Linked DNA regions of Homo sapiens. The protein of the gene in region 2 interacts with the protein of the main gene of each other region in a pairwise test. Each region holds a gene or a part of one and is shown on either strand. Other genes may lie near its edges. The genes, in order: MPHOSPH6, NUPR1, NACA and CAPN2.

Region 1 (7,626 bases), about 54 Mb from region 2:
TGAATAAATCAGGGAAGCAGAAAGAGGGAGCACATTTTGCGAGATGGATTTGATGTTGGACATGAGTTCGGAACTCACACTCAACCATTTGTCTGTCCTTCCAGCTGTCTCAACAGAACTCTCATCCTGCTTTAAGTGGATATGTCCTTGGCATTGCTGTTGTGGCTAGTATAGTGACTATCTCTGAGGAACAGCACCCAATTTCTCTTTAAAGAATTACCCTCCCCCATTGTGTATAGTCTTCTTGAAATTGTAAATCAGGTCCTGCCCTCCCTTAGCTGAGACATAACAAAACTCTCTCCTTGATTTTGAAAACTTGAGTAAAGTGTCCAAAGAGCAGAGAAATCAATTGGTGCTCACCATTCTTGCTGTGTCATTAAGTTCCTTGGAATGCCCTGGTTTCTGTTCTTTTAACTTAGCCTTGTTATCAAGCCTTCTCAACACCTATGAACTACCCAGTATCCTTCTAAATCACCATTTTGTTTAACAAGTCTTTTCAATATCTGGTACCTACAAACAGACAAATGAACAAAAACTAATACTTAATATACCACCTTCATTGTCTCATTGCATAAAAGAGTTCCTTCCTGTGCTCACCCCAGATTCTCCTCCAGTTTCTGCACTAGGAAGGTATGCATAGCCATTGCAGTATTTAAAAAAAAAAAAGAAAAGAAAAAAATGCAAGCCACACATGTAATTTTATATTTTCTAGCAGCCACATTTTAAAAAGTAAACAGAAACAGATGAAATTAGTTTTAAGGCTATATTTTATTTAAACAAATATATCTTTATTATTAATATATAATATGAAAAAATATTGAGATTTTTTTTAGAGTAAGTCTTTTGAAGTGTGGTATGTCTTTTACACTTACAGCACATCTCAATGCAGATGCTAAATTTTGAAAAGTTAAAGTGATATATGTTCCTTCCAAAACAATATAGCCTCATATACAGAAAAATAACTCACACTGTTACTTTTAACATTTAAATTGCTGGGCATGGTGGCTCAAGCCTATAATCCCAGCATGTTGGGAGCCCAAGGCAGGCAGATTGCTTGAGGCCAGGAGTTCGAGACCAGCCTGGTCAACATGGTGAAACTCCATCTCTGCCAAAAATTCAAAAATTAGCTGGGTGTGGTGGTGGGCACCTGTTATCCCAGCTACTCAGGAGGCTGAAGCATGAGAATTGCTTGAACCCAGGAGGCGAGGTTGCAGTGAGCCAAGATTGCACCACGACACTCCAGCCTGGGTGATAGAGCAAGACTCTGTCTCAAAATAATAATAATAATAATAATATAATAAAATTTAATTTAAATTAACTAAAATATTCAGTTCCTCAGTTGCACTAGCCCCATTTCAAGTGCTCACTAGTCACATATGACAAGCATCTATGCACTAGGCACCACAGCCTTAGATCTGCTATGGGAGTGAAGAGTCACAGGGAACCTTTTCTTGATGGATATAGTAGTTGGCAGGAATTGGAGGCTTTCATACTTCCAACAAATTCCATTATGACAGGACTCAAAACTGTGTGAAGACCTATTTGAAACATTTCTTCCCTCAAAATGATGTTTCTTTGGCTGGGTAACTACAACAGGTTAACACATTATTGATTGTGAGATCTATCCTCTGTGCTCTGCAATTCAGGTGCATAGAAAGATCAAGGAATTATCTTGTCAGGTAGTTTTCAAAGTTAAAATTACACTATTACTCTTAAATCACTTCTCATTTATAACATGTTGAGGGGTGGGAAAAGACTTGGGGGATTCATTTTAATTATAAGGATTTTCACCATCAAATAGAAAAATAGAATTTTGAGTGGCAGGTTGAAGAAGGTGAGCTTTATCTCTCAGACAATAACAGATATTGTAAATTTTAGAGTGAAAGAATAACATAATAATGTCAATGTTTCAGAAAAACAAATCAGAACACAGACTGGTACAACAGGGGTCCATAGAGAAGGTGTGGCGCTTCCAGCATCCTTACATGATAGATATATGCTCTTATTTCGCCGGGAATGCTGTTTTCCTCTTCTGAAGCTGACAAGACATGTGTTCATCCTAGTTCAGTCGCCCCTTAGTTTCCCAAGTGCAGAAGGCAGACTGAGTCACTTCTCCCTTCACCTCTACTCTCACAGCAGTTCTTTGAGAATCCCACAGAAAAACCAAACTTATAGAGACAGAAAGTAGTCGTGAGGACCTGAGGAATTAGTGTTTAATGGGAACAAGAGTTTTCATTTTGCAAGATGAAGAGTCCTATGGTGGTAAAAGCAGCATAACAATGTGAATGATTGGTGGGCCTTTTCCCTGATTAACTCCTCTCTACGTTTAGGAGAGTCCTCATTTCCAGGCCAGAATGGTTTAGGTACCCTCGTTGTACCCTTTCATGACCCTCAAACTTTCCTTACCGGGCTCTCATCACAACTGTCATCTACAGCTAATTGTATGGTATATTAGTCTGCTACGGTTACTATAAGAAAACACTACACACTGGGTGCCCTATACAGACTGGTTGTGATTTTCTCACAGTGCTGGAGGCTAGAGGTCTAAGATCAAGGTGTTGGCAGGTTTGGTTTCTCCTGAGAGATTTTTTAAATTTTTTTTATTTTTTTGGCTTTCAGATAGTCTTTCCTTTATGCAAACACAACCTTGGTGTCTGTGTCCAAATTTCCTCTTCTTATGACGACATCAGTCAGACTGGATTAGGGCTCACCCTAAGGGTCTTGTTTTAATCACCTCTTTAAAAAGGACTGTCTCCAAATACATTCACATTCTGAGGCACTGGGAGTTGGAACTTCAACATATGAATTTTGGGGGATGCAATGTGGCTTATGATTAACCTCTACTGTTTCCACTTGTAAAACTTTTAACACGGACTTTGTCTTGTTCATATCTGAGGACCTTTACAGTTGATGCTGTCTTCTGAGCACACTCTACCTCCAACTCTTCATAAAACACGTTTTTCTCAACTTTCAAGCCTTAGCACCATCATCTGACAAGGGCCGTTCCAAACCACCTGGTCTAAAGTAACCCTAAGCGTTACTCTGTCACATCACTGTTTTCTCTCTTTCATAGCAGTCGCCACTTACTTACGTCCAGAATATCAGCTTCAGGAAAGGTGGGGATATGTGTTTTTACACGCTATTATACCCCCGGCATCTCACACACAGTCACAAGTGAATGAGATTCTGTAGCCACTTGGTACATTACAATGATTTTATTTACCCCTGGGAAAACCTAAAGGGCTTTTAACATCCAAATCGGTGTTTGAATTTCAGCTCTAACATGGATTAGCTGTGTGAACACCAAGTGCGTTACCCACTCTGTGTCTCAGAATCCTTAACAACACGATGACAATACCTTCTTTCCGGTTCTTATGGGGATTAAGTGAACTAATTAGCCCTAAGGTGACCAGGTCAACAATCTGACGTAGAACTCATGGTATCAGCCGAGATGCTATTAGCTTGAGGGTGTTCCAAAGCGTCGGACCTGGGAATGGTTTTCGAAAACGTGTTTAGGTGGTACCCAGAGCATTAAACACCAGGGTAGGAACGCTACCCTATTTTCAGTGGTTTTTTAAATTCTTTTTTGTTTTGTTGTTTTGTTTTTGAGACAAAGCCTCACTCTGTAGCCCAGACTGGAGTCCAGTGGCGGGATGTCAGCTCACTGCAGCCTCGACGTCCCGGGTTCCAGTGATTCTCCAGCCTCAGCCTCCCAAGTAGTGGAGACCACAGATCCGTGCCACCACACCCAGCTATTTTTGTTGTATCTTTTGTACATTTTTTGTATATTTTGTATATATTTTTTGTATGTATATTTTGTATATTTTTTGTGTATATATATATATATATATATATATATTTTTTTTTTTTTTTTTTTTTTTTTTTTTTTTGTAGAGGTGGGGTCTCCCTATGTTGCCCCTCGCTATGGTCTTTTCAATTCTTTGGATCAAAACCAGGCTTTGTTCTCATTCATGTGTCTTTGGCACCCATCCCTGCCTCCATCCCTTGCCATTTCTTGAGATTCTTCTGTTTAGCAGAGATCACTCGGCCAGACACGCATCGGCAGCAGCCTGGGAATGAAGCCAGCCTGCCTGGGGCGGCCCCCGCCGCGCTCCCCCGGGACTCCGGGCTGCTGTGAGGAAAGCAGCAACTCGTGGGGTCCTGGTGAAGAGAAAACGACCTGGACCCTGCAAAGCGACCCAGAACAAAGGGAGCCCGCCACCCACGTTATGAAGACAAAACACGTGGGTAACACGGCCCAGGCGGGTGGCAGGCGTGGCGGAAACCTCTCTGAGGCTGGCGAGGACTACTGAGTGTGGAGGGGGTCCCTGAGGAAGGGAGTCCCCGAGGGAGGATGGGCCTCCGAGGGGGCCAGGCCGACGTCCCGGGAAGGCGACCCGCGGCTCGGGGAAGCCAAGTTCTGGGTCGTCCTCTGACTTCGGCTTTTTTGCGGTCTGCCGCGCTCATCCCCGCGCCCGCCACCCCGCGAGCTTACCCGAGCCTCTCAGTCAGCAGAGCGCCCGCTGAGTGGCCGCGCCCGCGCGCAAGACACAGGGGAGGGGCGGGGCGGGGCGGCGCGCACTACGCGAGGGACGCAGCTGCGCACGCGGCTCCGCGCATGTGCGGTGAGGCTCGCGGCCGGAGTGCGGCGCTGGGCGGAAGCTACCATGGCGGCCGAGCGAAAGACAAGGTTGTCCAAGAATCTACTGCGCATGAAGGTGCGGGGACGCTGAGAGCGCCACTCCGGGCGGTAGGGGCACCCGGTCCTTCCAACCTGGCCGGGGCCGAGGCGGCGGGCGGACAAGGGACACCAGAGAGGCCTCAGAGGGCTTCCAGCTCTCGTGCTCATTCATTCACTTAGCGCCTGCTCTGCACTGTTTACTGGGAACCAGCTTACGAATTAGGCCGACTCTCTCAGGAGGCCCGCGGGCGGATGGGAGCTTGAGTACACAGAAGCAGTCAGGGTACAGCTTACCCAGTGCAGTGAGGGTAGAAGCGCTGGGGACCTTGGGGACTCACCGAGCTTCTCGAGAAGTTGTTGCTTACTTATATATGCAATAAATATGATATATGGGAAGTGTAACTCCTTAGCTGGGTAATTTAGGTAAATTCACTTCTTTCTCTGAATATCTCTTTTCCTCATCTTTAAAAAGAAGAGCATTAGGCTACATGAGTTCAAGCTCCTTTTTAATTTTGATAATACTTCTTTTAGTAGAGTTCTTCAGAGAAACAGAATCAACAAGATGTATATGTGTATATATGTGTATGGAGAGAGGGGGTATTTTTAAAACTGGATCACACGACTGTGGAGATGCAAGTCTAAAATCTGCAGGGTGGGCCAGTAGGCTGGAGACCCAGAGAAGTACTCAGTCCAAGTCCAAAGACAGTCTGCTGGCAGAACTCCCTCTTCTTCCAGGGAGAAGAGGGTGAGTCTCGCAGGGTAGTCTCTAGGTTACTGGGAGGGTGGAAGGCACAGCGTCCTAAACTAGGAGAAACTGAGTTCAGAAGTCTGAGAGGCAAGAAAGAAAAAGAAAACCATGGAAATTTCCAAGAATTAGAGACAATTCAGTATGTCTGGAAGGCAAGTACTAAGAAATGGGGTTGCAGAGTAGGCAATGGTCACAACGTGCAGGGAATTTGAGGCCAGATTAAAGATATTTTCCTTTATTTTGTGAGCAATGGAAAGCTATTGAAACGGGGAACAGTATCAAGAAAATGGCAAATATTTATAGTACTAGACAATGATTGAAGTGGTTTGCGTATATTAACCTATGCAATTCACATAATGACACTTTGAGGTGACTACAGGCAGTAACTCTCTTCTTACAGCTAAGGCAACTGAAACAGAAATAAGTAATTTACCCAAAGTTACACAGCTAATAAGTAGTGTAGACAGGACGGGAATTCAGGCAGTCTGGCTCCAGAACCCTGGCTCTTTATTACTACTCTGTACTCTGTGATGCCTGTCACTAAGCACTACTTCTAGAGAGTAGCAAACTGTTACATGTCATGTTTAAAGAGGTGGAATTTCCAAAAGAGGGAAGGAAGCATTCATAATGTTTTGAAAGATAGGCCATTCGCAGTGGCTCATGCCTGTAGTCCCAGCACTTTGAGAGGCTGAGGTAGACAAATCGCTTAAGCCCAGGTGTTTGAGACCATCCTGGGCAACATGGTGAAACCCCATCTCTACAAAAAATACAAAATATTAGCCAGGCCTAGTGGCACGCACCTTTAGTCCCAGCTACTTGGGAGGCTGAGGTGGGAGGATCACTTGAGCTTGGGAGATCAAGGCTGCAGTGAGCTGAGATGGCGCCACTGCACTCCAGCCTTGGTGACACAGGGAGACCCTGTCTCAAAAAAAAAAAAAAAAGAGAGAGAGTAAACATTATATGGGCAAGATTTGAATGGAGTTGAGCTAGGATGGAGTTAGGGATGAATGGGTGAATGAGGGTGGAGGACAAATTGCAGCATAACTTAGAGTTTGTCAAGCACTTTCATGCATATTAGCAAAATTTGAATCTTTACTGAACAGAGTTTGATTTTATGGTTGGTAATAACATTAACTTCAGAGAAGTGGAGTGAATTGGCCAAGCAGATATTGGAAAGATTTTAGCAGTTGTTTTAGCTCTTGGAATAAGCCAGATGATGTACTGGGTGACTCAGGCTCAAACTAAATATCCGAGTTGCAACTAAGAAGAAAGAAATTAACTTAAATGTCCACCCCCACCAAATGGGGAGACTCAACTGGACGTTGGAAGCAAAGGAGAAGGAAAAAGATCACCCACATTCTCTATTTGGTTTAGCAGCTTTGGTCATTGATAAGAAAAAACTTACTGGCAAGATAGCAGGAGACACTGTCTATACTGATAGAACAGAGTATACTGTGAGAAGGCATGGAGTAGCTGCACTTAGGGTGCCTTAACCAGAGCTAAGTCCTATATAGCATGGGTCCCCAACCGCCAGGCCATGGACCAGCACCAGTCCATGACCTGTAAGGAACAGGCTGCACAGCAGGAAGTGAGCAGCGGGCAGGCAAGCGAGCGAAACTTCATCTGTATTTACAGCTGTTCCCCATAGCTTGCATTACCACCTGAGCTCCGCCTCCTGTCAGATCAGTGGCAGAATCCTAGATTCTCCTAGGATCAGAAACCCTACTGTGAACTGTGCATATGAGGGATCTACCTTGCGCTCTACTTACGAGAATCTAATGCCTGATGATCTGTCATTGTCTCCCATCACACCCAGATGGGACTGTCTAGTTTCAGGAAAACAAGCTCAGGTCTTCCACTGATTCTTCATTGTGGTGAGTTGTATAATTATTTCATGACATATTATAATATAATAATAGAAACAAAGTGCACAATAAATGTAATGCACTTGAATCATCCCTAAACCATCTACCCTTCCCCTCTCCACCACCCGTGGAAAAATTGTCTTCCAGGAAGCCCATCCCTGGTGCCAAAAAGGTTGGGGACCACTTTTTAGGCAAGTATAAGAGGGTTGAGGATTTAATCCTGACTCACTTCAATGCCTCTGACTTGGTCAGCCATTGCAGGGTGATCCTAATGGGAAGAAGAAAAAGAAGGATGTGGATGGAAGGTCTTCCAGTATGGAATGGTTGTAGAG
Region 2 (3,844 bases):
GCAAGGAGTCGGGAGTCCTTTGAGTTACAGAAGCCTGACAGGGCCAATTCTGTAAGCCCCTGGGGTAGGACAGAGGTCAGTGATTTCTCTAGTTCTCAGGGGGATCCCCCCAAAATGGGGAAACAGACATGCAACCAGAAGAAAAAGAAAGGGTTTAGGAAAGGGGATGGAGACAGAAGAGGAAGAGTCTGGGTAGGATCCTTTCGGATCCAAAAATTCTGCAATTCCAAGAATTGCCTTAATTCCCAGAACAGCCACTTAAAGGCCTCTCAGGCAGAGGCTGTGCCAGGCGAGGGCGAGGCCAGGAAAGGCCAATCAGAGGCCAGGAGGGAGGGGCAGTGTGTGAGGACTCCTGGCTGGTGTCAAAGGACCCAGGACAGGGAGTGGCCATTCCAGCTAGGGACACAGTGCTTCCCAGCCTTCATTTTCTCTTTTGACAGAAGAGAGGCCAGTCTCACCATTTGACAGGTGAGGAAACCCAGGCCCAGAGGAGTAATTGACCAGAAATTAACGAGAGTTTAGGATTCTTCATTGTCAATACATGGTTCTTCCCAGGCATGTAGCAAAGGGGGAAAAATCCAGGCTTTAAAATTCAGATAGACCTGAGTTCATAATTCCAAGTCCTACAGGATGTGGCTGTGTGACTTTAGGCAAATTACTTAATGTCTCCGAACCTCAGTTTTCCGGTCTGAAAAAAAGGGGATCATTAATAGTATGTCCTATTGGGTTATCGTAAGGATTAAATGGAGCAAAGCCTATAAAACACTTCTCACAGAATAGGAGCTCCAAACACAGCAGAGATGTTTCCAGGATTTTCTGAAGCCAACACACCAGGTCTGTGCTGGGCTGAGGGCCGACTGCCTGGTGTTGCTCCTGCCATTTGCTCCCTGGGTTCTAGAGCTGATGGTGGCCCTATTCCTGGTTCCAGTCATATCAGGATTCTATTTGTCCCTCTCAGCAGCACAGGCCTCCAGCAGCATCCTGGTAACTCAGAAGGCATCCAATAAGCATTGATTGAGTTAATATGTAACTTGTATGGAAAGAGGAGTTGGAGGCAAAATCTGAAGGATTTCCAAGGTAGACTGTAAGATTCTGGGCCCAGGCTTCCGTGTGATCCCAGAGGAGGGTCGGCCTGGGGTGGAGGTCAGGAGATGGGTGGAGGATTGCAAGTTAAGGAAAACTTTGGTTTTTGTTTTTTTGAGACAGGTCTCACTCTGACGCCCAGGCTGGAGTGAGATCATGGCTCACTGCAGCCTCCACCTCCCAGACTCAAGAGATCCTCTCACCTCAGCCTCCTGAGTAGGTGGGCCCACAGGCACAAGCCACCACACCTGGCTAATTTTTAATTTTTTGTAGAGAGAGGGTCTTGCTGTGTTGCTAGGCTGGCCTAGAACTCCTGGGCCCAAGCAATCCTCCCACCTCGGCCTCCCAAAGTGCTGGGATTGCAGGTATGAGCTTCTGCACGCAGCCATCAGGGAGGAAGAGAAGGAAACATCTAAGCTGAGCCTCATGAGATGGGGTCGGGGGAGGAATTAAAGTCATCTCAGACAGAAAGGACCAGAAAAACAGAAGCTTATTTAAGGGCAGGTATGAGAGACAGATTTCAGCCCACATGAACAGACTTGCCCTGAGATAGAATTAGGCAACCTTTGCCGGGTGGTGTGGCTCAAGCCTGTAATCCCAACACTTTGGGAGGCCAAGGCAGGCAGATCACCTGAGGTCGGGAGTTTGAGACCAGCCTGGGCAACATGGTGAAACCCCGTCTCTACTAAAAATACAAAAATTAGCCAGGTGTGGTGGCCCACACCTGTAGTCCCAGCTACTAGGGAGGCTGAGGCATGAAAATCGCTTGAACCCAGGAAGCGGAGGTTGCAGTGGGTCGAGATCACACCACTGCACTCCAGCCTGGGCGACAGAGAGAGACTCCATCTCCCAAAACAAAACAAAAAAATTCAGCAACCTTTAAATGTAGCAAGTTCCCCCTCCATAGTGGTATTCAAACAAGCAGAGGCAATCCCACTGTTGCGTGGGGAGAGTTGGGCCAGAGGTCCTTAAATGTCCTTCCGGGTCATGGATTCATTCTGTGGCTGTGATTAGGCTGGACTCAAGGGAAGGGGATGGATACAGGTCCCCAAGGGTTCAAGCTGGTCGTAGTCTGACGTGCATCTGTTCCTGCTCTATCAGGTACTTCGGTCTTCTGTGGATGTCCTTGGGTCCCCATGAACCACTGACTCCAAGTTCTGCAGTGTGGGGCTTATGTGAAAGGGACAGGGGAAAAGGAAACAGGCTCTGCCCGGGGCCCAATCTCAGAGTTTTCTCCCCCGACATCTGTTGAGTCTGCATGTGGGCAATGTTTCTTGCTAGCTTCTTCGTGTATTCACTCTCTCTGGTTCCCTTTCATCATAAAACCCTGCTGTTGCCCAAGTTTTGGCTACCACGTGGCTAAGCAGCTCAATGCTACATTTCCCAACCTCTCTCGTAGTTGGGTGTGGCCATGTAGCCACATTCGGAGCAGATGTGATGTGTTCTACTTTTAGATTATGCCCTAAAATTGAAGAGGTGTGGCCTCCTCTGTCTCTTCCACACTCTTTCCACAGGCTGAGATGCAAACGTGATGGCAGGTATTGGAGTAGCTATTTTGGGCCTCAAAGTGGAAGCCATGTTTTGGGTGTGGCAGAACAGTGAGTAAAAATAGCTGGAATCCTCAACACAATGGAGCTGCCATTTGAACCCAGGAGGACTTGGGGCTAAGTAAGAGAGGAGTAACTTTGTATCCTGTTTTGATTCTTCATAATAGCAACCCAAACCTGTATCTCAATCAACAAATAATCTCAGCTCCAACCACACTTCCTGTTTGCCCCATATTTTTCTTCAACTCTGGTCCTGAGACATAGCACTGAATAAGAATCTCCCTCCCCCATCTCACTTCCCAGAACCCTGTCCCACAGCCCCCTTGGCCTGGGGACCCACCTCATATCTGAAGACAATAAGATCCCTGAATATGAGCCCTGAGTGAGCTAGGGCAAATCCCTTAATATTTCCTTCCCTCCTTTCCTCCTTCCCTCCTTCCCTCCCTCCTTTCCTTCCTCTTTCTTTCCCTCCTTCTCTCTTTCTTTCTCTCTCTTTTTCTTTTTTTGAGATGGAGTTTTGCTCTTGTTGCCCAGGCTGGAGTGCAATGGCGTGATCTTGGCTCACCACAACTTCTGCCTCGAACTCGAACTACTGACCTCAGGTGATCCGCCTGCCTTGGCCTCCCAAAGTGCTGGGATTACAGGTGTGAGCCACTGTGCCGGGGCTCGCTCTTTTCTTTCTTTCTTTCTTTCTTTCTTTCTTTCTTTCTTTCCTTCTTTCTTTCTTTCTTTCCTTCCTTCCTTTCTTTCTTTCTTTCTTTCTTTCTTTCTTTCTTTCTTTCTTTCTTTCTTCTCTTTCTCTCTCTTTCTTCTTTTTCTCTCCTTTCTCTCTTTCTTTTCTTTCTTCCTTCCTTTCTTTTCCTTCCTTCCTTCTTTTTCTCTTTCTTTCTTTCTTTCTTTTTCAATACATGGTTTCACTCTATTGCTCAGGCTGCAGTGCAGTGGCACCATCATGGCTTACTGTAGCCTCCAACTGGGTTCAAGGGATCCTCCAACTTCAGCCTCTGAGCAACTAGGACTACAGGCATGAGCCACCATGCTTTGCTAATTTTTAAATTTTTGTAGAGACAGGGCCTTGGTATGTTGCCTAGGCTGGTCTCGAACTCCTGGCCTCAAGCGATCCTCCCTCCTTGGCCTCCCAAAGGCTGGAAGGCTGAGGTGGGCAGATCATTTGAGGCCAGGAGTTTGAGACCAGCCTGGCCAACATGATGAAA
Region 3 (7,102 bases), on a different chromosome or scaffold from region 2:
TTAGACATGAATTAGACCTCCAGGCAGAGAGCTTACTCACAAGGGTAGGGACTGTATTATGAAACTGTAACCTAACTTGTTAAACCAGATTGTGGTGCTATTTTGGAAGAAGAGAATTGGAGAGCCTGTAACAGTGGCTCATGCCTGTAATCCCAGCACTTCGGGATGCCTGGGAGGGCGGATCACGAGGTCAGGAGTTCCAGACCGACCTGACCAACATGGTGAAACCCCGTCTCTACTAAAAATACAAAAATTAGCTGGGCGTGGTGGTGTACACCTGTAATACCAGCTACTCAGGAGGCAGAGGCAGGAGAATGGCTTGAACCCAGGAGGTGGAGGTTGCAGTGAGCCAAGATCGCGCTACTGCATGCACTCCAGCCTGGGTGACAGGGTGAGACTCCGTCTCAAAACAAAACAAACCAAAGAAGACAATTGGAGTGGCGAGAATACACTGGATCCCCACTCCTTAACTTGGAATTTAAGTGTTTCATTATGTCAAAATACACCAATGTTTGGCATGACAGTAAGACAGTATCTCTGGCATTCAGGAGGTAACACAGAATTGGATCAACAAATGCTCAATGCTTAGAAGGGAATGTTAAGGGGGGCGGGGGGGAAGCCCGTGGTACCAAAATTCAAATTCAAAATTCACTCAACCAGTAATTCTGAAGTTCTTATGGCATCCTACCATGGAAAAGACAAGGTGGCTCAACTAGTTTTTCCTGGAGAGTGGGTAGGCCAAAGTCTAACGATTACAGGAAAACGCTACCAAACATAATGAATCAGAATTAAAAACATGGAATATGTTTTCTTCTGACTGGACCTCAAATGGAATAAGCACTCAAATACTTGCTTTGACACCATCAACAATTCCTTGAGCTTCCTTCTTCATTCTAATAGACTATCATTACAGATAAAACCTTGTGTATTTATCATTGGTACTTCCTTAATATAAGCCTACTATGCAACTCAGACTATTCAGGAATACGTTTAATAGCATTAAGGACTGTTTCAGAAGTAAATGCATTAGTTTTGAAGCTTGAATCAGATTATTCTAAATTCATCTGAATTTCAAATCTTCGTATTTGTAAAATTAAGTTGTTCAATGACACAATCTCTAAAATCTCGTTTTGTACTGAAATTACAGAATCTTTAGAGAACAGTACTTTATTTTTTCCCTTCCTTAAGCCCCTTGTACTTCAAGAATTTCATATTGTTTATACTCCAGCTTAGAGCCCCCTATTGTCCTTCCTAGCAGCTGTATTAATCCCTTCAGCTGTTAAAATCAAACAGGTGGGAAGAAACTTTATGCTTTCAACTATAAGCAACTCTACTGTAACTCCAAAAAGGGACAGGAATTGCCCTTAAATAACAAATGAAATTTAAAAAAAACCAAAAAGGTGAGAATGAAAATTACAGCCTGAAGATTTCCTTCATTTAACGCTGCACAACTGACTCAGAAAGGCTATCATTTTAAGAACTTTTCATTACCTCCTCCTAAGTTTTCTACAGAGATATGTTTTAACCAGAATTTAAAATTAGCCTTCACAGTCGTTAATTTCGACGCTGAGGATAAAAGGATTTATTTCAATCCTGGGTTTCACACAATGATGCAGGAACTATTCCAGCACACTAGAAGTATCTCAGCACCACCAACCCATAAACAAGTTATCCGACCTAGGACGACTCTGGGGCCCAGTAGGACACATTTACCACCAGCACACATCTCATCCAGACATGTGATAAAGGCACAATGCCAAGCTCTGCTAACTAAAACCTTGATGCAACTTGCTGGCTGGAGTTTCACAAATGCTCCGGGCTCCTTGGCCTGTGTCATCTAGTTCCAATAGGTAAGAATCACTGAGCCCATTCCCTGCTGAGTTTTCCTATGTGAGGTGGGGGTTCCACAGGAGAGCTTCTTTTGAGGCGACAGGCATAACATAGAAAGCAAGCTAGGGTACTTTTAACGTCCACGAATCTTAAAAATATTATTTTTACTCCAAATCCCTAAAGAAGTATCTCCAGGATAGTAATTTTACGGTCTATCCTCCTTGGTAAAGCTGCAACCCCATCCTCCTAAAAAGTGTATTTCCCCTTGGTCATTTTGCCCACCAAATGGCTTTAGGGTTAATTTTAATTAATGGCAAGGAGGGTAGGGAAACCTACCTGTCTCAGCCTGGGGCTGCGGCAACTCCTGCTCTGTAGCAGGGACGGTTTCTGTGGCTTCGCCGGGCATTTCTGAAGGAAGGGAATAAAAAGGAGGCCTAAATTGATTGGGATACATTCACTTGCCCAACCCGGAGATAAGTATTCTTAAAAACTCCGAGGAGGGCTGTTAGAAAAAAATCGTGAGGGTGTTTGGTGACAACCTTCCCCAAAGCACCTGGGAATAAGAGGTAAATATGATGTGACCCTCACGCCTCTATCAAGGCCAGCAATTCCCACTGCATTCTCAACCCGAGGGAGAGGATCCCGGGCTGGCTCTCGATCATGGGAGACTTCAGACGCTACTGTGAACCCCCTCCACTCCTAATACTCACACTGGCTGGGCTGGGGCCTCCTGGACTACGTTTGCCGACTTTGGGGTACCAGGAGGGGAAAGACGGTGTTTTAAGTCCAACACTTGCTTGTCACAGGGAGAACGGTGTTACAGGTTCTAAGGCTGTGACCCCTTACCCTTTTCTGGATCCTGTGAAGCAGTTCCCAAAACAAGACGCACTCCTCTTCCGCCCTCAACACTGCAACTGCTCCCATCTCTGCAGGCTCGGATTCTGGGCCCGCCCCGCAGCCCTTCTACCCTGCTTTTGCCAGGACACCAACCGCAGACCCCATTTTGTCCGGAGGCCCAGGGGCGAGTAGGAACCCTGTGGCCCAGTAAAGCCTCCAACTCTCCTTAACTCTCAGTCCCCGGGGCGGCTTAGCCCGAAAGAAAGGCGGATGGCTGCGGATAGACAGTAGCGGCACAGAAAGTACTTACTGTGCAGGGAACGCGGAACCAAGATGGCGGCAGAAAGACCGAGCGAGAGCGTGACCCACGCCTGTTGCAGAAGGAAGCCTGGAGCGGAGGGGGTGGGACTAGGATCCGATTCCGGGTCAAGAGCTGCCGGCAGCCACTTCCTTTGACGAGTGACTGTCAGGCCGTTCCCACGGCGGGGGTGGTGACAAGGACTAAAGGGTAAGAATTTAGAACGGGACGCGCAGGCCTAGCAGGAGCTCTCTGCGCGGACCCACGCAGTCCTCAGAACTAAGCAGACTCCGCCCTCCGGTCCGCGAAGTGGCGACTGCGGTATTAAGTCGACCTCGCGATTTCTCAAATAGTGCAGGAAGAAGACATTAAATAGCGAATGCTAGAGACTGCATTCACAACATTGGAGGGTGGAAGTGACTTAGGCTAACCAGTTATTTTTGGAACACACGATGTGAAAACATTTAAAAGCTGCTGGACCCTCTCCCCCCCCATCAACAACAACAAAAAAACCCATTTTAAAACTTGAGAGATGTGATGGGTCACATATAACTTCAGTTCAGATTATAAATTTAATTCGATTTTTCTTGTTCTGTTCAATGACTAGAGAGACTCAAACGATGTCACCAGATGACAGCAACTCATGCGTGTTAAACTCTTCGTAAAACAATGTTAGCTGTACCCCCGCCCCCCCCCCAAAAAAAACACTTCTTGTAACCAAATTCTGTAATTATGTTCCAACCTTGTATGGATAACGTAATCCAGCTAAAAACTCCTCTGTCTCCCTAAATAAATGAAATCGTAACTTCTCTACTTCTGAAGGCTGACTCCATTCTTTGGAGGTTTTCTGGTTGGTCCATCCTCACACTGCCCTTGAATAAACTCTTTAAATAGATTCCGGCCCTTTTGATTGTTTTAGGTTCACGACAATTTAGCCGATGTTGAAATTATAAAGCTGCAGATTCTCCTTCCCAGAAAAAAAGAACATAGGCACATATACAATTCCTTTGCTTGCTATTTTGGGCACTTCTTGGATTTTTTTTTTTTTTTTTTTGAGTCGCTCTGTCGGCCAGGCTAGAGTGCAGTGGCACGATCTCGGCTCACTGCAATCTCCGCCTCCAGGGCTCAAGCAGTTGTCCCGCCTCAGCCTCCCGAGTAGCTGGGATTACAGGTGTGTGCCACCACCCCCGGCTAATTTTTTATTTTTAGTAGAGACGGGTTTCACCATGTTGGCCAGGCTGGTCTTGAACTCCTGACCTCAGGTAATCCGCCTGCCTCGGCCTCCCAAACTACTGGGATTACAGGCGTGAGCCACCATGCCCAGCCTGTTTGTTTTGTTTTTGGGACAGTCTCACTTTTATTGCCCAGGCTGGGGTGCAAAGGCACGATCTCGGCTCACTGCAACCTCCCCTTCCCGGGTCAAGCGATTCTCCTGCCTCAGCCTCCCGGGTAGCTGGGATTACAGGCATGCGCCACCACGCCAGTCTATTTTTTGTATTTTTAGTAGAGACGGGCTTTCTCCATGTTGGCCAGGCTGGTCTCCTCCTGACTTCAGGTGATCCGCCTGCCTCGGCCTCCCAAAGTGCTGGGATTACAGGCGTGAACTACCGCCCCTGGCACTTCTTGGATATTCTAAGCTTATTTATTCTAGGTGTCTGGGACCCCACCTTAAACCATGCTTTGTACAACTGTATTTTTGAAAAGTAGAATGTAAAATCAGTGTTGTGTTAATGAAAAGCCTCCCATATCTTCCCACAGCCCTACAAAAGAACTCAACAAATATTTGCTGTACCTGAATTAGCTAAACCAGTCAACATTTATTTATTTTTTGAGGCGGAGTCTCGCTCTGTCGCCCAGGCTGGAGTGCAGTGGCGCGATCTCGGCTTACTGCAACCTCGGCCTCCCGGGTTCAAGCGATTCTCGTCTCAGCCTCCAGAGTAGCTGGGATTATAGGTACCCGCCTCCCCGCCCGGACTCCTGACCGTAGGTTATCCGCCTGCCTCAGCCTCCCAAAGTGCTGGGATTACAGGTGTGAGCCACTATGCCTGGCCTGATTTAATAGCTTTAAGACGACTGTGGCCACCTTTTTTTTTTTTTTTTTTTTGAGACGGAGTCTCGCTGTCACCCAGGCTGGAGTGCAGTGGCGCGATCTCAGCTTACTGCAACCTCCACCTCCCGGATTCTGGCAATTCTCCTGCCACAAAACTTCTCCTGTTTCACCGTGTTGCCCAGGCTGGTCTCGAACTCCTGAGCTCAGGCAATCCACCCGCTTCGGCCTCCCATAGTGCTAGGATTACAGGTGTGAGCCACCATACCTGGTGTGGCCGCCTTTTAAGGGAAGCAGTGAAAATTTAAAATGCTTTGAAAGCTACTTTAACATTTCTGAAATCCTTAGCGTAGTGAAATGAGGATTAGGATTGGTGAATTAAAATTAAGTGAGATAGTGGGGTTTACCAGGAATGGGAAATTCTGAAATCCTCCTCAAATAGGAGAGGCAATATTGTGGAGTCATTAAAGACAGACTCTGAAATAAGACTCCTTTGTCTAAATCTATTAGGTCAGTTTAGGCAATTAACCTATATATATATTCATGTCAGTTTCCTGATCTGTAAAATGGGAAAAATAGTAGCTGCTTGATAGGATTGTTTGGAAGATTAAATTAGTCTGTGTGTATATATACACACACACACTCACACTCTAATTGGAAGGAAAAAGAAACAGTCTATCTCATAAAATTATCCCATGTAATCTTTACATAAAACTTAAAAAGTTTGTTACTATTAAATTGTAGACATAATCAATTTCTACCTAATAAATACATGATCTGGAAGATTTTCAATGCAGTCCTTTAGTCCATTTACCTTCAGAAGGACCAGAAATAGCCAATTTCCTTAGACAAAAGTACATATTCACAATTTTTCTTTCTTCCCCAGCAAGCCCACTTACTTTTTCCTCTCTCTGTAGTAATGACTAGCCAAGGAAGGATGTATTTTTTTTTCCTTTTTTTTTTTTGAGACAGGGTCTGGCTCTGTTGCCCAGGCTAGAGTACAGTGGGGTGATTATGGCTCACTGCAGCCTCCGCCTCCTGGGCATAAACGATTCTCCCACCTCAGCCTCCCGAGTAGCTGGAACTACAGGCACACAACACCACACCCAGTTAATTTTTGTATTTTTTGTAGAGACGGGGTTTTGCCATGTTGCCCAGGCTGGTCTTGAACTCCTGGCCTCAAGTGATCTGCCCACTCTGCCTCCTAAAATGCTGGGATTACAGGTGTGAGCCACCACACCCGGCTAGCGTGTTTCTTAAGTTGGCAATTTTGAAGATAGAAGCCATTTCTTTGCCCCTTTGTTTCTACAGTTCTAATATGTGACTGAATTGGCAAATCAAGAAAAGGGGAAGTCAGTAGTCCTTGGGTATATTTTTGCTGTCTTTAAGAACTAAACATTGGCTGGGCGCCGTGGCTCACACCTGTAATCTCAGCAGTTTGGGAGGCCAAGGCAGGTGAACTGCTTAACTCAGGAATTAGAGACCAGCCTGGGTAAGATGGCAAGACCCCGTCTCCACAACAAAATAAAACGTAAGCCTGGCAAGGTGGCGCATATCTGTAGTCCCAGCTACTCCAGAAGCTGAGGCACGAGGATCCCTTGAGCCCAGGAGTTAAGGCACTTCAATGCTAGACATATTTATAAAATGATAATGAAAGCTGAAAATGTCTCTTTTTGAGGCCGGGCGTGGTGGCTCACGCCTGTAATCCCAGCACTTTGGGAGGCCGAGGCGGGTGGATCACGAGGTCAGGAGATCGAGACCATCCTGGCTAACACGGTGAAACCCCATCTCTACTAAAAATACAAAAAATTAGCTGGGCATGATGGCACGCACCTGTAATCCCAGCTACTCACGAGGCTGAGACAGGAGAATGGCGCGAACCTGGGAGGTGGAGTTTGTAGTGAGCCGAGATGGCGCCACTGCACTCTAGCCTGGGCCACAGAGTGAGACTCCGTCTCAAAAAAAAAAAAAAAAAAAAAAGTCTCTTTTTAAAAGCATACCAGTCTTTCCACTCTCCTTCTGAGTTCTTTACTGATTAGTTCTGGAATAATGAGTCTCTAGTAATTTTGTATTCAGGAGTTTTAATCGAC
Region 4 (7,033 bases), on a different chromosome or scaffold from region 2:
AGCCTTGCAGCAGGAGGAGCTGCTCTTCCTCGGAGAGAGGATTTCACAACACTGGCAAGAGTGGCTCCAGTGCCTGGAGCGGGGATTAAAGCAGTAAGTCCAGTGGGGTCCAAGGGCCATGCAGGGGTACAGTGAGGAGAAAGCAGGTGTGATCCGGGTGGCACATCAGATCCTTCCAGCAACCAGTCTGTTAGGAGCAAGGGCAGATGTTGTGAGCCCCTATGTTTCCCCCAAGAAAATCAAACCTCTGAGAGGTTTCTCACTTGCTTATCTTCAGCTGGCCGAACTCAGCCTCAAACCCATATGTCCTGTCTCCAAGTTCAGTGACTGTTATCATCAACTTCTTCAACAGTAATAATAATAGATCACATTTATGGAGTGCTTGCCAGGGCATGTTTACATCATTATCTCATTTAACACTCAGAACAATCCTCTGTGGTGGGTGTTTTCATCGTTCCCATTTTGCAGGTGAAAAAACTGAGACTTCAAAAGGTTAAGTGACTTCCCAGGGTCCTACGACCTACATAATAAGTGGCAGAGCCAGGATTCAAACCTAGGTTATCAGAATAATGCAGCAAAGCCCAAACCCTCAGCCCCTTTTCACTGACTGGTAAGACCCATATTTAATTCGATGCCCTACATGCCGTGCACAAGTTTCAGTTTTCTGAAGCATCGCTTAGATGCTTAGGTGTTTAGCACCACTCTGAACTCTGACTTTTCTAGAGAGGCTGCTAAAGGCATTAGAAAGTTTCTGAAGTATAATGGAAAAACCCTGCTGGAGTAAGTGCCTGGCACACTCAGGATTATCAGTGTGATTCTTTATAATAAACAGGCTCCCAGCACCAAGCCCAATCTATTCCATCAGCTGGATAAGAGCTCTCTGGCAGGCCTTGGGCCAAGCTGGCTTCCTTTGCCTCAGCAGAAGAGCATTCTGATTCTCTCTGCCATCCCCAAAACTGACAGGAGCAGAGAGAAACAAGGCAGAGGCATGAAGGGAATGTCCTCTGCGGCAGATGGTGCTTCCGGAAGAGCTCCCACAATCTGAGCTAGAATGAACAGGGGCTAGATCCAAGTCTCATATAGGCATACTTCTGCTTGACAGAGTGGGCATGCCGAGGGCCGTTGGGTGGAGGCAGGCGTGTGCAACCCAAGCAGACATGAGACGCAGCTCCTTCAAGGCAAGGTTGCCTGAGCCCAGAGAGGCTCAAATTTGTGCCCCAACTTCCTCTGTGGCTTTTGGGTGGGGCTCTTCAGAATCGAAACACACTCAGAGGGCTGCTGAAAGGGCTAAGAAGTGTTCAAGGTTGGCTTCCATCAGGCTGCTCATGACAATGGCCCCTGAGGTTTTAACACCCTTGAACGCTTGGTACTAAATCAATTAGAGGCAGGGCAGGAGCAGAAAGAGTTGGCGCATTTGATCAGTAAGTTCCAATGCCAGTGCTGTCTATTATCTGTGAACTGTGTTAACTTTGGACACGTCACTTCACCTTTTTGAGCTGTTTCCTCGTCTGTAAAAGGGGGATAATACCCATTCCATGAGGTAAAGCTTTGAGCACAGTCTCTGATGTAAGCAGGTACAGAATATATAGATGCTGTAAGTTTCATGGTCCCATGGAAGAATTCAAAAGGGTTAGATCCCGCCTGCCCTCAAAAGGGTATGTGTTAGGAAATCAGAGTAATACCTAAGTAGTAAATTGCAGAGTCCAGAGACTCTGGGACTCAGACTTGAAGGGATGAGTGAGGATTGGACTAGGACGACTTCACGGAGGAGGTGACAATGAGCCTCAAGGTATGATGCAATATGGAAAAGGAGGGAAGAGAGTGGGAAAGGAAGGAATTTCATGCAAGCAAAACAACTTGCATGCAGTAACAGAGGAGAGAGGATGCTAACCCAGTGGATAGGGTGGCTCTAGAGTGTGGATGGTCTCCACGTCTGGCAGAAAAGGCTGGACTTGCTGCTGTGGCCCCCGGGACACAGCACAATGAAGGAGGCTCCAGGCAGTCCAGAGTGTGCAGGGTCCAATGCCTGCCCTTCTCAGACAGGACCACCCATCCACCCATCAGGGCCCAGGGAGCAGGGGTCAGAAGGACCTCATGACACAGAGTTCTGACTGTGATGACACACTTTCCCCAGAGGGGAGGGGAAGGGGAGAAGGGGTTAGAAGACCCCACTGAGAATGGAGGCATCCTAGCTGCAGAAGCACCTGGCTGGTAGGCTAACAGCACTTTGTGGGTCTCGTTCCCAGGAGATCTGCGCTGACCCCCAGTTTATCATTGGAGGAGCCACCCGCACAGACATCTGCCAAGGAGCCCTGGGTAAGTGATAGATTCAGAGCAAGCTGGGGGATCTTGTCTGTAAGGCTGTGGGTGGAAGAGATGAGGGACAACCTGTGGCTTCTCTCCCTTCCCAAGCAGCTTGGCAATTTCTATTTGCAGAGAAGCTCCATGGAATTTCTTGGCCCTAGCGGGCAATGATTCTACCCTCAGCCCCATGCTGGGGCACACAAATGAGGCCTCCTGTGTCCCCTGCACAGGGCTAGTTGCTGAGGTTACAGAGATGCTGCCACTAGGAGGACCAGGGGGCTTCTGGATGTCAGCCACCCCTTGGTATGCACCTCCTGGAGCCAGCATTACCAGTGGTTCACGAAATACACTCTGGGCAGAGGACTAGGTGGGAGGACTCCCCCAGACCAATGACAGCACTGAGACATCAGTTCTGTGAGGTTCAGGAACCAGGGAAGGTGACTCAGTGTAAAGAAAGAGGAAACTCTAATGCTCGCTGCTGAAGGAAGTTATAGTACCAGGGCATTCTCAGTGTTTGCAAGACAAGCTCACCATGGTATCACAGTTGTAACGCTCATTTAAGTAAAATGAACTGGAGTAGCTGAATTGTCCAAAACCTTGCTTTCTGGAGCCGAGTTCAGATTTGTTTCTGGAGATAGTCCTTGTTGAAGGTTTCAACCCACAGGGTTCTCCACCTTTAGTATGAAAATTCCCAAAGCTTCTAGGAAGTCCCAGCAATGGGGCCTGGCGCTGTTATCTAAGATTCTCATAGAATCTGCCCTCAATGTTCTTTTACTCATAATAAATGTGGGCCTATAATTACTAGAGCAGATTATTTGCTCTGATAAACCAAAAATCTATTTTCTGCCATCAGCCTCAGCTGGCTGGCTCCCCAGACAAGTTCATCAGTAGCAAAATCAGTCAACTAGAGTTGTACCTCCTGTCCTCACCCACCTAGCAGAGGTTCTGTTACTCATATACTCCTAATACCAGCTGATAACAGCTAATATGTATCTCTAAGGCACCGTGATTATTCCCATTTTATAGATGAGGATGCAGAGGTCTTCCTACAGCTAAAGTGGTGGCTGGTACCCCTGACCCCAGGGTATGTTTAATTCCTGAGCTAGACTCCCTAAGACGGGACCTGGAAAATTTTCTAGCCCTGAGGAATGTCAGAGCATCATGTGAATCATTAGGACAGACAGACTGTGAGGAAGAACATGAGCTGGGCGGGAAAGTTTGTCTGAGCTCAGGCTCTGCAGATTCCTGAGATGCCAGAGCACATTCTTACCTGCAGAAAACACTCCTTTCATTTCTTTTCTTCTCGCCCCACAAAAGACAGAAGATAGAGGTCCTTGAGCACCCAAGGCGGATCCTCCAGGAAAATCTATTCATTAGAGAAAATGGAATTGATGGAAACTTTGACCAACCCCGGGGGCTTTAGAGAATCCAGAAACAGCCGGCGCAGTGGCTCACATCTGTAATCCCAGCACTTTGGGAGGCCGAGGCAGGCAGATCACCTGAGGTCAGGAGTTAGAGACCAGCCTGGCCAACATGGTCAAACCCTGTCTCTACTAAAAATACAAAAAAATTAGCTGGACGTGGTGGTGGGTGCCTGTAATCCCAGCTACTCAGAAGGCTGAGGCAGGAGAATTGCTTGAACCCAGGAGGCAGAGGTTGCAGTGAGTAGAGATGGCACCACTGCACTTCAGCCGGGGTGACAGAGAGAGACCCCATCTCAAAAAAAAAGAGAGAGAATCCAGAAACAAACACAGCAACTGCCTAACATCTGCTTCAGAGTTTAACAACACCTTAAGTGCCAAAGTGTAAGCAACAAATACATGATTTAAGTCCTGTGTAAATACCACTGGGCCAATTGGAGAGGAGATAGCAAAGGTTAACATTCCTGGGAGAAATTTCCCTCCCAGGGGAATTATAAACCAGGTGAAATGTAAACCTTTTAAAAATTTCTTAGTAGCTAGTCTGTAATTTCTCAGGGGTGTGTGCGTGTGTGTGTGTGTGTGTGTGTGTGTGCGCGCGCGCGCGTATAATGCAGTATTGGTCATTTTGTTCTTTCAGCCTTTTATTTTGGAGGACTCTAGTTAGATCACAATCTGTGAAATGTGGTATACTGTACTCTCACCCTGATTCTGGCACCTGGCCAGCGGGTGCTGATGGGGCCTTGACCTTCACCAAATCCCAACAGCCTCACAAGCACCAGGAACAGAGGCCATGGCAGTGACACTCTGTGACATGGCCAGAGATATGAGCCTAGACTCAGCTCTGTTGGTAGTCCGAAGACTGGGCAAGTAATTACCTGGAACTTCCATCTGGAACCTCCGTCTCTTCCAAAAACGGAGAAGGAAGGAGGGTAAATGGAGTGACCTCAGACACCCCCTATGAGTTTGTATTCAGCTATTCTAAAGCCATTCCCGGGTTTCTAACCAGCTACTCCTCATTCCTTGTGCTAGAGGGTTAGAGCACTACAAGATCATCCTTATTTTCTCTCTTTCTCTCTTTTTTTTTTTTTTTTTTTGACAGGGTCTCACTCTGTTCCCCAGGGCTGGAGTGCACTGGCAGGATCTTGGCTCACTGCAGCCTTGGCCTCCTGGGCTCGAGTGATCCTCCCACCTCAGCCTTCTGAGTACCTGGGACTACAGGCACACGCCACCACACCTGGCTAATTTTTGTATTTTTTTGTATAGACCGGGTCTTGCCATGTTGCGCAGGCTGGTCTTGAACTTCTGAGCTCAAGTGATCCACCCACCTCGGCCTCCCAAAGTGCTGGGATTACAGGCGTGAGCCACTGCGCCCAGCCAAGATCATTCTTTTATTACACACAGAAGGAGTAATAACAGTACCCATCACCTGCATAACAGTATGCAATTCATAGAGCATTTTTTCACTACAGTATTTCATGTACTCATCCCAAATCTAAAGTAAATATTCTCACCTCACTGTACAGATAAAAAAAAACTGAGCCACAGAGACGGGAGAGTAAGTGTAAAGCCACACAGCTAGTAATTGCCAAAGGATTGAACCCTGGTCTGATTTTGAATCCTACACTCTTCCTAACCCATGCTCCCTCCAATTTGCCATAGTGCTGTGCTGAGGAACCATTCTCAGCAAAATTCATCTTCTCTACCTGCGCTTTCTACCCTGAGCCTTACTCAGTTCCCCCAGGGAACTTGGGCAGGTGACATTCTTAGACTTGTGCACTTTGCAACGCCCTGCCCTGTTTACTGTGCTGCCCAGCAATGTTTAATCCACAAACACCCACGCTCCTTCCCAGAAGGCTCAGCTTCCAAGCTTCACCAAAGTCATTTAAACCATGTTTACAGAGCTGCTCTCACCAAGAGCCATCTCCATTGCAGAATATAGTTGTGTAAGAATTGATTCAGCAGAGAAAAATCTGCCCTTCTGGAGGAAGGGCTGGAGACCCAGCTGGAGCCTCCACTGGCTGACCCTGCAGCTAAATATGGCTCTGAAATCGTGGGGTAATAACCACATTCTTACAGGTGCTTGCCACTTGAAATGGCTCCCAAGGACCCAGGAAACTCCAAGGCTGAGCTGCTCCTACCTCTGATGCTTTACTTTGCACTGGGTCACCACTGAGCTTTCCCCACAGCCTCACAGCTCACGGATGAAGGCAGCTACCCCAGCCAGGAAGGCATAGGTCACCTTGCAGGCCTCTGATTTCCTGGGGTAGAGCCCAAGGCTGCCAAGGCTGTTGAAACAGCACACCCCCATTTCATTGTAACCCAGCAAATGTTCCCTGGGCCCCTCAGAGGTGGGTCAACCTGCCTCCTTCTCAAGATGTCACATGGACCCCCAGAGCACCCACTGGGAGGTGTTTAGCTACAGGGTGCCCCACCCCACAGCCTAGCTCAGCAGAGAGTGGGGAAGGGACAAGACCAATGGGAAAGGCAAGCCAGATGGGGAATTTTCCAGTCCTGTTCCTTCTACCACTCATTAGCCACTTATTTGGACCCAACCCCTCTGAGCCTCAGTTTCTTCTTCTGTGAAATGGGAATAATGATAAGGATCCCTTCCCAGGGCTGTGGAGAAAAGTGAGATTTATACAGGCAAACACACTTGGCACACTATAGAATCCCAGACAAATTCAAGGGACCAGGATTATCATTACTGATTCCAGTTATGTGAAAAGTCCTTTTGCCAAATTGCCGAAGAAAAAGAGGATGGTGGAGGAAGAGAAAAGGAGGAGAAGAAAATAAGTTGGGTTGGAAACCAGATCCTTGTCCTTGAAAATTTCATAATCTAAGGGTGGAAATGCCAAAACGAGGAGAGACAAACTTGTGGCCTGTGTTTGGGTAACACACAGATTGAAACTCAGAAGGAGAAACATATGGGGAGAAAATGAACACAAAGGGGTCAGATGTGCATTCCTCAATTTTAAAAATTGAATATTTAAGTGTTTTAAATAATTTTTATTTCTTTTCCTTTCTTTCTTTTTCTTTCTTTCTTTTTTTTTTTTTTTTTTTTTTTTGAGACAGGGTCTTGCTCTGTTGCCCAGACTAAAGTGCAGTAACAAAACCATAGCTCACTGCAGCCTCGACCTCCTGGGCTCAAGCAATCCTCCCACCTCAGCCTTCCAAGTAGCCAGGACTACAGGCACGCACCACCTCACCTGGCTAATTTTTGTGTGTGTCTGTGTGGAGATGGGGTCTCACTGTGTTGCCCAGGCTGGTCTCAAGTTCCTGGGCTCAAGCAATCCTTCTGCCTTATCCTC

What was found.
Region 1: the proteins of NUPR1 (region 2) and MPHOSPH6 interact in a two-hybrid assay, tested with the Homo sapiens proteins (2 studies listed by BioGRID and IntAct).
Region 3: the proteins of NUPR1 (region 2) and NACA interact in a two-hybrid assay, tested with the Homo sapiens proteins (one study listed by BioGRID).
Region 4: the proteins of NUPR1 (region 2) and CAPN2 interact in binary tests that used the Homo sapiens proteins (3 or more experiments, as listed by UniProt).

Annotation. Positions count from the first base shown.
Region 1 is NC_000016.10:82,167,217-82,174,842, reverse strand, and holds the start of MPHOSPH6 (M-phase phosphoprotein 6), read left to right. Parts: upstream 1-4,618; 5' UTR 4,619-4,667; coding exon 4,668-4,718; intron 4,719-7,626. UniProt on the Homo sapiens protein: RNA-binding protein that associates with the RNA exosome complex. Involved in the 3'-processing of the 7S pre-RNA to the mature 5.8S rRNA and play a role in recruiting the RNA exosome complex to pre-rRNA; this function may include C1D.
Region 2 is NC_000016.10:28,532,201-28,536,044, forward strand, and holds the end of NUPR1 (nuclear protein 1), read right to left. Parts: 3' UTR 508-3,844; downstream 1-507. UniProt on the Homo sapiens protein: Transcription regulator that converts stress signals into a program of gene expression that empowers cells with resistance to the stress induced by a change in their microenvironment.
Region 3 is NC_000012.12:56,722,286-56,729,387, forward strand, and holds the start of NACA (nascent polypeptide-associated complex subunit alpha), read right to left. Parts: upstream 3,015-7,102; 5' UTR 2,978-3,014; exon of another isoform or gene 2,677-2,977; intron 2,265-2,676; exon of another isoform or gene 2,239-2,264; 5' UTR 2,237-2,238; coding exon 2,167-2,236; intron 1-2,166. UniProt on the Homo sapiens protein: Cardiac- and muscle-specific transcription factor. May act to regulate the expression of genes involved in the development of myotubes.
Region 4 is NC_000001.11:223,715,516-223,722,548, forward strand, and holds part of CAPN2 (calpain-2 catalytic subunit), read left to right. Parts: intron 1-2,246; coding exon 2,247-2,316; intron 2,317-7,033. UniProt on the Homo sapiens protein: Calcium-regulated non-lysosomal thiol-protease which catalyzes limited proteolysis of substrates involved in cytoskeletal remodeling and signal transduction. Proteolytically cleaves MYOC at 'Arg-226'.